Homo sapiens: one gene and its partners. The protein of the gene in region 1 interacts with the protein of each later gene in a pairwise test. Each region holds a gene or a part of one and is shown in the gene's direction. Other genes may lie near its edges.

Region 1 (3,750 bases):
GCAGAAGCAGGCAGCACAGGAGGCTCCTTATGGTACCAGCATTGCCTCTTTACTTCCATGGTTGTGTTGCTGGGTTGTTGGGGATCTTAGAGGAGAACTAGGCTATTGGTGGAGTCGTGGGGGACACTTAGAGGGCTCACAGCAGCTGCCTTTTATCAACTAGGACTGAACATTTTCATTATTTTAACAGCAAATACAATCCCATCAGAGCATGCTGGTTGAATGCCAGTCCTACTCCAGAGTGGCACCTATCTGCTTCCCCAGTCTTCAGATGTTTCTAATTTAACTTGAACATTGTAAGAAGAAAAAATGTAAGCTGCAGATGTCAGGATTGAAGCTAGACATATAGAGCTGAAAGCCATTACAAATTAGGAGGAAGAAAGGCTCTTTTCTCACAGTCTGTGGAGAAAGATGTTTGACCTGGGGCTTTGGTGGTGTAGCTTGCAGGCAAAAAGATGAATAAGTGGGCTGGGTGAGGTGGCTCATGCCTGTAATCCCAGCACTTTGGGAGGCCAAGAGGGGAGGATTGCTTGAGCCCAAGAATTCAATACCAGCCAAGGCAATATAGTGAGACACCACTTCTACCAAAAAAAAAAAAAAAAAAAAAAATTAGCTGGGCATGGTTGCACTGACCCATAGAACCAGCTACTTGGGAGGCTGAGGTGGGAGGATTGCTTAAGCCTGGGAGTTTGAGACTGTAGTGAAACATGTTCACACCACTGCACTCCAGCCTGGGAGACAGAGTGAGCCCCTCTCTGGAAAAAAAAAAAAAAAAAGATGAATAAGGGTACTTACTGGCCTAACAGAGTTGGGTGCCATGTGGCTGGGGTGCTTTGCCTGGGAGAAAGGAGGACAAAGGACACCTGGGGTCCCCTTTACGGGAGGTGAATAATCTCCCTGCTGGGTGGCCCCCCACCTAACTCCCTTCACACACTGACAAAAACCTGGCCAAGAAAGAATCCTTTGTCCTGGGACTTCTGAGGCTGAGGGGGGAGGGGAGAAGGCTACAGGTGAAAGGACACATCAAAGCAGTCAGTTGCCCCTCCTCCTCCAAATAGTTCCCCTGCCCTTGTTCCCAGAGCCCAGGTTTTCTGTAAATGAAGGCTATACCCTAAACGTCCAACTGCCTAGACAGCTGGGAAGCTAGACACCTGGTCCTTACCTTCAGCTGCCTTCCACCTTGATATGACTCAGTTTCCCTGTCCCTAGGAGAGCCGTGGGGACACAAGGCGACGACAACCTGTATAAAGTTTAAAGGTCACATTCGAGTGGACCATCAGGTTGGAATTCGTCAAATGCATGGGAGAAACGCAGACCTGGCTGGACTCCTGGGCTGAAAAGGAGGGCTGGGAGAGGCTTGGAGCCATGTGTGCCCCCGCTGGCCAGGAGCAAGGTGGGGGCGGGGTGTGGGCAGAAACCACATCGGGCTCAAGTTTCCTCTCTTGGCCGAAAGGGGCAGGAGGAGAGGAGAGCCACGGGGAAAGGGGAGGGTTGGAGGAAGGACTGAGAACTCAGGCCGAGGGCTTCAGACGCTGGTGCGCCTGCTTGGGGCTCCTGTGCTCAGCTCAGCCTGAGCTTCCACACTCAGCGCTCAGCAATGGCCCGGGGGCGGGGCGCGGTCCTCGCAGATTCTCAAAGGTAGCCGGGATCCTCGTCCAGCAGTGTCAGCTCAGGCTCAGCCTCCCCAGAGACAACACCGGGAGCCTCATCTCTCTCCTCACCCTGCTGTGACTCCACCACAGGTGCCTGAAAGGCAGGGTGTGTGTGGGGGGGGCGGATTCCAGTGAGATCCGAGGGGCAGGCTGGGGGGTGAAGGAGGTGAGGGGGGAAAATAACCAACTTTCGGTATCCTAGGAGACCTCAGACTTTCTAGATTGCCCCTGGTTTAGGAATCTGACATATTTGGGAACTCCTCTAGGAGAAGACCTAAGTGGTTTCTTGGGTGCTCTGGGATCCTTGGGGTGGAGGCTGTGAATGGGGATCAGAGAGGGGTCTCCAGAGGCAAGGCACCGCTGAGGGGCTGGGGAGTAGCCAGGAGGAATCCTTCAACTGGTGGGCTACCCTGAGGGAACCAATAGACTACCCTTTCCCCAACTCCATTCCATTACTCTGCCCTGTCTAGGCAGCTGAGAAGGTTTAGGGAAAGCTGAGGAATTGGAAACACTGGATATCTGAACCTCTGAGAAGTGTTGCAAGGTGCGGGGGTTGGATGGGAGATTGCCTCTGGGTTGTTGGCTCCTTTGCCCTTTCTCTTCTCTGTGCCCAGGGGCAGTAGAGATCAGCTGGACCTGGAGGGAGAAGGAAGACATCCCAACCCCAGCATAGTTGCTTCTAACTGGAACTCTTGGCTGCTTGGGAAATAGGGGCTTGGGAAGCAGTGGAAGAGAAGAGAGGAGGTATCAGAACTGCTGGGGCTGGGATCCCCTAGACATCGGTACCAAAGGACTGGAGTTTGGGGTCCAGGGATGAAGTGACACAATAGCAGAAACTCGTCCCCCTCTTCTTTGTTCTCACACATTTGTTTGAGTCATGCATGTCCCTAGGGCACTGAGCTCACTATGCTTAAATCTCTCTCCCTCCTTTTTTTCCCCTTCATTCTGTCTCATCTCTGTGTGTCTCTCTCTCTTCGGGAGTTCTCCCTAATCTTTCTAAATAGGTTGCTTACCGGTTAACCAATACCCCAAGTTTTACTAATCCCTCCTCATCCTTTCACTGCACCTATTGACACCTGGAGAGGTGAGGTGGTCAAATAAGCCTCAGAAAAGGGATCCTGAGGCAAGCCCCCTCTCATCGTTCCCCCTCGTTAAGGAAGTTAAGAGCCCTGGGGCAGCAGCTAAGGCCAAATGTATTCCTCTCTCCATCATCCCTCTCCGAATAGTCCTCACTCTGTATTCCTAATCATGAAGCTCCGTATCATTCTGTGAGTACTTAGGGATTATGATAAAAATCTTTCTGGGTAGGACCACCAGGCTAAGAGTAAGGAGGATGGACTTTAGTCCCTGGTGACAACCCCATTTCTACCTAATCCATAATGTTGGGGAGTAAGAGAAGGAACAGACAACCCAGTGGGAGTAAGATGGTGGTGTGACCCCAAAATGCAAAAGCTAAACTGTAAAGTGGGAGCTTCTTATTGTAAAAGAAAGGGAACACAGGGAAGCCCACTTCACTTTCCCAGTATCTCCCCAGTTTCTATACCCTCTATGGTGTTCTATTTGATCCAATTCTATCTATCTCCCTGATCTATCCCACTGCCTGCCAGCTCTGCTGTCCTCTGAAAGGTAGGCTCTGGAAACCCAGAGGGACCCTATGCCTGGTGTATAGAACACCATCCATCCTTGAGCGTCTAGGGAAAAGCATCCTGCTCCACCTGCCACCTGGTACAAACTTGCTACTGCACCCAAGAGCTGGTTGGAATGGATCCAGAGGTTCTCCTCAACTCTCTCTCCCCCAAACTCCTGCCTCCCCTTGCTCCCCTTCTTTTTTTTTTTTTTTGAGACAGAGTCTTACTCTGTTGCCCAGGCTGGAGTGTAGTGGCATGATCTCAGCTCACCGTAACCTCTACCGCCCAGGTTCAAGCAATTCTCATGCCTCAACCGCCTGAGTAGCTGGGATTACAGGTGTGCGCCACCAGACCTGGCTAATTTTTGTATTTTTAGTAGAGATGGGGTTTTGCCATGTTGGCCAGGCTGGTCTCAAATTCCTGACCTCAGGTGATCCACCCACCTCAGCCTCCCAAAGTGCTGGGATTAC
Region 2 (3,650 bases), on another chromosome or scaffold:
CCAGTGTCCTCTAGCCTGGGCGACAGAGTGAGACCCTATTTCAAAAAAAAATAAAAAGCTCCTGAAGTCACCATACATGAACAATGATCCTGTATCATTTGAGAACACAAGTGGTATTCTGTATACTCTCCTTACTAAGTTTGGGAGGTATACCATACCTTTAGGAAGGCGTCCATTCATTAGAGGAAAAGAAGAGTAGTTCATTAAGACCTGATTGGTTAAATGGAGATATTGCCATATAAAGAGAAATGCTTTAGAAGAAAGTTGGGTGTTTCCATTTATTCCCTTGTTAGCAAGTTCAGTGGCATTGTGGTTGAAATTTTTGATAGGTGTGAAAGATGAAGGGCTGATTGTGCTTTATGAATCTGTCCTGTGAGTGTGAATTTTCATTTTCTGCTCTGACAGTGCCTGTCTTTCCCTCTAGGTGTGTGGGAATGCCCTCATGAAGCAATACCAGGTTCAGTTCTGGAAGATGCTAATTCTCATCAAAGAGGACTACTTTCCCAGGTATCAGGCTTGTTGAGCAGACAGCAGGGGATTAAGTAACTCATAACCAGGCCTCAGATACCCAAGGGTGCTATTACCTGCTGGTTTTGATTCAAGTTAAAAACACCTGTACTAAGTATGACATCTTTCCTACTCCAGTCCCTCTCGTTGATATTTGAATAAATGCTTTTGAACCTTAATGAGAGTCTGTCTTAAATATCATTGCCCAAACAAAAACACAAATTAGGGGCTGAGCACAGTGGCTTATGCCTATAATTATGCCTATAATTGCAGCTCTTTGGGAGGCCACAGGAGGAGGATCACTTGAGCCCAGGTGTTCAAAACCAGCCTGGGCAATATAGCAAGACCCCATCTCTACAAAAAAAAAATTAGCCAGGCATGATGGCATGCATCTATAGTCCCAGCTACTAGGGAAGCTGAGACAGGAGGATCGCTTGAGCCCAAGAGTTCAAGGCCTCGGTGAGCTATGATCGCACCACCGCGCTGCACTCCAGCCTAGGTGACAGAGTGAGACACCGTTTCCAAAAGATAGGTGTATATCATAGGTGTGATTCATGTGTCTTTCTCTCCCTGTAGAATTGAAGCTATCACAAGCTCAGGACAGATGGGCTCCTTCATACGCCTCAAGCAGTTCTTGGAGGTAAGATGCCCTTAGACCAACATGCCCCACACTGTTGTTGGGCTGGAATGCACCTATGTCTGACAAGTCTTGGACCTTCCGATGCTCTGATTGCACTCTCTTCCTTAGTTCTTCCAAACCCTTCTTTTTGTTCCTAATTCCCTCTTAACCTTTGGAGTAAGGGCTGCCATTTCCTCTTCTTTATATGTATCATTCTCTATACTGCCTGTGAGAAAGCTATGCTGAGATGAGTAAAATATATTTAGTGTATCTCCTCTCATTAATATATATTTTTTTTGCATGTTGGCCAAGGTTATTTTCTTAGTCTCAGGTCTGGGGAATTGGTAAGTGTCATCACTTTTCTCCATGAGATCAAACTGCACTTTCAGTTGGACTCTTCCCCTACTTCCAAGTGCCAAGAGATTGTAAAAGGTTAATTTTGACAAAGAATTTAGAACACTATAGTGGGTTTGCCAAGATAGCCTGCTGACTTTTCAGCTTCTCAAAGCTCGATTGTGAAAATAGTGATTGTGAAAGATGAGGTTAGCCTGTAGGGAGACAAGAGTGGGACAGGAATAATAAGAGCATTTCATTTGTTGTCTGGAGCAGATCATGCAGAAGTGGACATCTTATACAGAACCATCAGTCTTACTGGCTTTTTCCTTTTTGTTCACTGTTCCATAGGGCTGAAATATGGTGTTCCTCAAAGCTTCTTTTAACCATTAAGTGTTGGGAACACTGTTATCAGAAACTCATTCTGTTTTCTTCATCTTTCCCTGACCAGAAATGTTTGCAACACAAGGACATTCCTGTCCCCAAGGGCTTTCTGACTTCCTCCTTCTGGCGCTCCTGATGTCACTCCATCACCCACCATCACCGCTGCTGCAAAGAGGCAATAATAAAGGAACTGAAGACAGCTGTATTTGGGAGAAGTCATGTCAGATTCAGAAATTTGCCATTATGTATTTTTATGTATTTATGCCTTGTGACTAGGAGAGGAGATTTTCATGGGTCACAAAATTCTTGGAGGTCCCTTAGTAGATTTGGTAGTTCCTTAAGAGATCCACGTGATAAAATAAATGGAGTTGGCCTTTCTTGTTTTTTGCAAAAGTGATAAAAGGTCTTTAGCACTTGGTCTCCTCCCTTGTCTCTAGTGTCTTTCAGAAAGTTGGCAATACCTTAACAAATGCACTCTGAGCTGGAGGGAGCCCACCATTTGCACCCACCTACCCACCCTCACCCCTGTTCAGATGAATTTCCAGAAAGAGCTAAGGCTCATAAGGTTCCCTTTTAAGTATTATTTAATAGTTGAGGCCAGATACTTACATGCAAGTCTGGGTTATGGTTGTTTTGCCTTTCTCAGCTTGTGAAGTCATTCTAAAGCTAGAGGAAGTATGTGATATACACATGGACTAAGGCTCAGGTGACACTATGGCTAGATTAACATCTGGGATTAGGACTGGAAACACATGTCATTTTGAACTAAGGGAAACTCTTTGTCATCCTAATTTGGAATTTGGTCCCTGGATGGCTAGGGATCCATGAACCAGGCAGGTACCTTTTTTGTTTTTGTTTTGTTTTGTTTCTTTTCTGTTTGAATTAAGATGGGCTAAGATGGGGCTTGCAACATTAAACATGAGCTGAGCATCCATAAGCATTGAATTGGGATTAAATAAAGATGTTGGGCAGGAACTGAACACTGCTAATATGATGATAAATATGCCTGACTAAAGCCACTACAGAAATCCAGAGATTGGCTGTTAAAATTTGTTTTGTGGAAAGACTAATTCTCTTTGATACTGCAGAGGCAGTGGCCATGGATCTGTTCCTCTGTGCTAAATGTCTTGTGGCAGGGTGTGTTTGTGGGGGAGTGTTCACTGGTACTCTTGAGTGGCCTGAAGTGACCCATTCTATGAATTGTTAATTAAGGTGCCAAAAAAAATTAATAATAAAGCTTGGTTTTTTGAAAAACCCATTGCTGATATATTGGTTCAATATGATCAATTTCCTCTGCCTTGAGCTATGTAAATCATGATAGTATACAAGTCCAGGTATAGAGCGGTATGCATTTATTCCTTTTGGTCTTCTTGACCTACACCTTGGGAATATTACTTCTTTTTCTGTCATTTCCTTTTTTGGAATTATGTACTAATAACTGACCCTATTTTATCTAGCAAGAGATGTGAAAGTGTATTAAAATCTTTGAAAGACACAATAGGCCGTGCTTAGTGGCTCATGCCTGCAGTCCCAACACTTTGGGAGGCTGAGGTGGGAGGATTGTTTAAGTCCAGGAGTTCAAGACCAGCCTGGGCAACATAGTGAGACCCCCATGTCTAAAACAAATTTTTTTGGCCAGGCGCGGTGGCTCACGTCTTACCAGCCTGGCCAACATGGCAAAACCCTGTCTCCACTAAAATTACAAAAATTAGCTGGGCATGGTGGTGTGTGCCTGTAATCCCAGCTACCCAAGAGGCGGCTGGGGCAGGAGAATTGCTGGAACCCAGGAGGCAGAGGCTGCAGTGAG
Region 3 (3,047 bases), on another chromosome or scaffold:
CAGATCATGAGCCGCCGTGTTTTTCACACACACCCCATCAAAGGGTTTCAAGCTGGGGAGTGACAGCTTCATATCTCTTCTCTGAGAAGGAGTGGGCTGGTTGAATCCCTCTCCAGGGCCCTCCCTGCTCTTGCATTCTGGAATGTTCTATTTGCGACTAGTGGAGGCGGCTGGGGGAGGGCTGGGAGCTGGGCTGGCTTCCTCCCTCCTCGACCACACGCAGCAGCCAAGCCTCAGCCCGGCTCACCAGCCACATCTTCTCTTCCCTTTGGTGTGTCTCCCTGGGGTGGGCAGGACCCACTGCGGGAACATGCTGCAGCCTTACCTGAAGGACAACAGTGGCAGCCACGGCTCCCCCACCAGCGGTATGCTCCACGGGGTCTTCTTCAGCTGCAACACGGAGTTCAACACGGGCCAGCCCCCGCAGGACTCCCCCTACGGCCGCTGGCGCTTCCAGATCCCAGCTCAGCGCCTCTTCAATCCCAGCACCAACCTCTACTTTGCGGACTTCTACTGCATGTACACGGCCTACCACTACGCCATCCTGGTGCTGGCGCCCAAAGGCTCCCTGGGGGACCGCTTCTGCCGCGACCGCCTGCCCCTCCTGGACATTGCTTGCAACAAGTTCCTGACCTGCAGCGTGGAGGATGGGGAGCTGGTCTTCCGCCACGCCCAGGACCTCATCCTGGAGATCATCTACACTGAGCCCGTCGACCTGTCCCTGGGCACCCTGGGGGAGATCAGTGGGCACCAGCTCATGAGTCTGTCTACTGCCGATGCCAAGAAGGACCCCAGCTGCAAGACCTGCAACATCAGCGTGGGCCGCTAGGGACTCCTGGGGAGCTGGGGGGCGAGGGAGAGATGAGCGGAAGGTGGAGGTGGGTAGCCCAGGTTCAGGGAGCTGGCTTTCTCTCTCCTGCCCCCCTGCTCCCTCCACTCTGCCCAGCTGCCCTCCCCTCGCCCCTTGGCATTGGAGGCAACAGACGGTGGTCCTCTTGGTAAGTGTGGCCCACACCCAGCCTGGTGGACATGGAAAGGCTTCTCAGCCTCTGTAGTTGGCAGCTGGGCTGGACTTCTGGAGAACTTCCCCTTTCCTCTGGTTTCCTTGTCCTACTGTTCTTTGCCTCGTCCAGGTCTCTATCTCCCAAAGACCTGCCCACCTCCTGGGCTCTCCCAGGGAAGCCCCTCTGGGCCAAAGCCCATGGGTAGCTTGGCTGCCTCCAGAAGAGATGCAGAGAGCTGTGGGGCGATCTTTCTTAGTCCCACTCACCCCACTCAGGGCCAACCACAGAATGCCCCCTCCCTGCTGAGCTGGGTCTCTGGGGCTTCCCACTCCAGGCCTGGATCCCTTCCTTCTATAAATAGTCTCCTGCACCACCGTGACTCCCTGGCTGCTCCTTGCCCCAAAGAACCCTCTTCCTGCATGGGAGAGCTGTCCCTCCTTCTCCACCTGCCCACCGGGACACTCCCCCTGCTCTCTAGAAAGGAACTCTCTTTCTTCTCTTGGCACTGGGGGCGTCAGGCTGTCGGATGTTCCTTCCTTCCATACCCCAGCATACCTTCTCCTTGCTTAGAGTGCAGGGGTCTGAGACAGCAGCCACTGGGGTTGAGGAGGGGGAGGAGACCCCTGAGACCCAGAGGTGCCCCTTCCTCAGCTGGGAGTGGGCCGCCTCATGCTCTGCTGGGGCCTGGCATGGAACGTGAGACCTGTAAGCTGTCCCGCGGGCCCCGGCACCCCGCCCAGCTGTGCACTTTGCTCACTCGCTCTGCCATGGTGCCATGACTGTACTGTGCCCATGCGTGACCTGGACTGTGGACCCTCTGCTGCTCCGCCTCTCCCCTCCCCACTGGCTCTGTCTGCTCTCCTGCCACCCTGCTGGCCGGGAGCCCCTCCCCGGGGAGTTCTTGGTGAAGTCCTTCCCGGGCCTCCTTGTGTTTTTGCCTCATTCCTACTGTCACACAGGTCACGAGGGTGGACTCCCTACAATCAACAAAGCAAACAGAGAGCCTGTGGGAGGGGCTGACAGCAGCAGCCGGCTGTTTGGGGGATGATGGAGGTGACATCAGGCAGAGGAGAGTGCAGCCTCACAGTGACTTTCTCAGAGGTGACAGAGATGATGGATGAGCAGCTGGATTTTCGTGATGAAGGACGGAAGCAGCAGCGGGCCGGCAAGGCCATACCTCGGTGAGGGACAGGTGGACAACGGTCACCTATCTGTAGCCAGGGGCAGTTGTGTGGCCAGCTGTCTCTCTGGGATGAGTCAGGAGGCCTGGAGGCTTGGGGAGAGGTGTGGAGAAGGAGAGAACATGGCCCAGGCCCTTTCCTTCCCCCTGTGCTGACAGCATTGCTGTGGGGGTGGCCCACTGCCCTCCCCTGGCCCTCATGTCCCCCCGGGGCTGGGGTCCGCCTGCCTGTGCTGTGCTTGCGACGTGCATCAATAAACCACCATGGCCTGAGGGCCCTGCTCGTCTCAGTCCATTTGAGCTGCTGTAACAAAATACCACACATTGGGTGGCTCAGAAACCGCAGATTCATTTCTCATAGATCAAGGTGCTGGCAGAAGCGGTGTCTGGTGAGGGCCTGCTTCACAGATGGCTCTTTTCACTGTGTCCTCACAGGGTGAAAGGGACTAGCAAGCTCTCTTGCCCCTCCTTTTTTTTTTTTGTAGACATGGGGAATTTCACCTTGTTGCCCAGGCTGGCCTCAAACTCCTGGCCTCAAGTGATCCTCCCACCTGCTTGGCCTCCCAAGGTGCTTGGGATTACAGGCATGAGCCACTGCTCTGGGCCATCTTGGGCCCCTTTCATAAAGGCACTAATCCCATTCATGTGGCCCCACCCTCATGACCTCATCGCCTTCCAAGGCCCTGCTTCCTAAAACTATCACCTTGGGGTTAGAATTTCCACCTAGAGCTGGGTGAGGTGGCTCACGCCTGTAATCCCAGCATTTTGGGAGGCTGAGGCAGGTGGATCAGTGGAGGTCAGGGGTTCAAGACCAGCCTGGCCAATATGGTGAAACCCTGTCTCTACTAAAAATACAAAATTAG

What was found.
Region 2: the proteins of NFE2 (region 1) and GLE1 interact in binary tests that used the Homo sapiens proteins (3 or more experiments, as listed by UniProt).
Region 3: the proteins of NFE2 (region 1) and PHYHIP interact in a two-hybrid assay, tested with the Homo sapiens proteins (one large-scale study listed by IntAct).

The regions. Positions count from the first base shown.
Region 1 is NC_000012.12:54,298,793-54,302,542, reverse strand, and holds the start of NFE2 (transcription factor NF-E2 45 kDa subunit), read left to right. Parts: upstream 1-1,527; 5' UTR 1,528-1,742; intron 1,743-2,266; exon of another isoform or gene 2,267-2,396; intron 2,397-3,750. UniProt on the Homo sapiens protein: Component of the NF-E2 complex essential for regulating erythroid and megakaryocytic maturation and differentiation. Binds to the hypersensitive site 2 (HS2) of the beta-globin control region (LCR).
Region 2 is NC_000009.12:128,539,192-128,542,841, forward strand, and holds the end of GLE1 (mRNA export factor GLE1), read left to right. Parts: intron 1-424; coding exon 425-507; coding exon of another isoform or gene 508-523; exon of another isoform or gene 524-686; intron 687-1,083; coding exon 1,084-1,147; intron 1,148-1,910; coding exon 1,911-1,979; 3' UTR 1,980-3,097; downstream 3,098-3,650. UniProt on the Homo sapiens protein: Required for the export of mRNAs containing poly(A) tails from the nucleus into the cytoplasm. May be involved in the terminal step of the mRNA transport through the nuclear pore complex (NPC).
Region 3 is NC_000008.11:22,219,135-22,222,181, reverse strand, and holds the end of PHYHIP (phytanoyl-CoA hydroxylase-interacting protein), read left to right. Parts: intron 1-294; coding exon 295-829; 3' UTR 830-2,479; downstream 2,480-3,047. UniProt on the Homo sapiens protein: Its interaction with PHYH suggests a role in the development of the central system.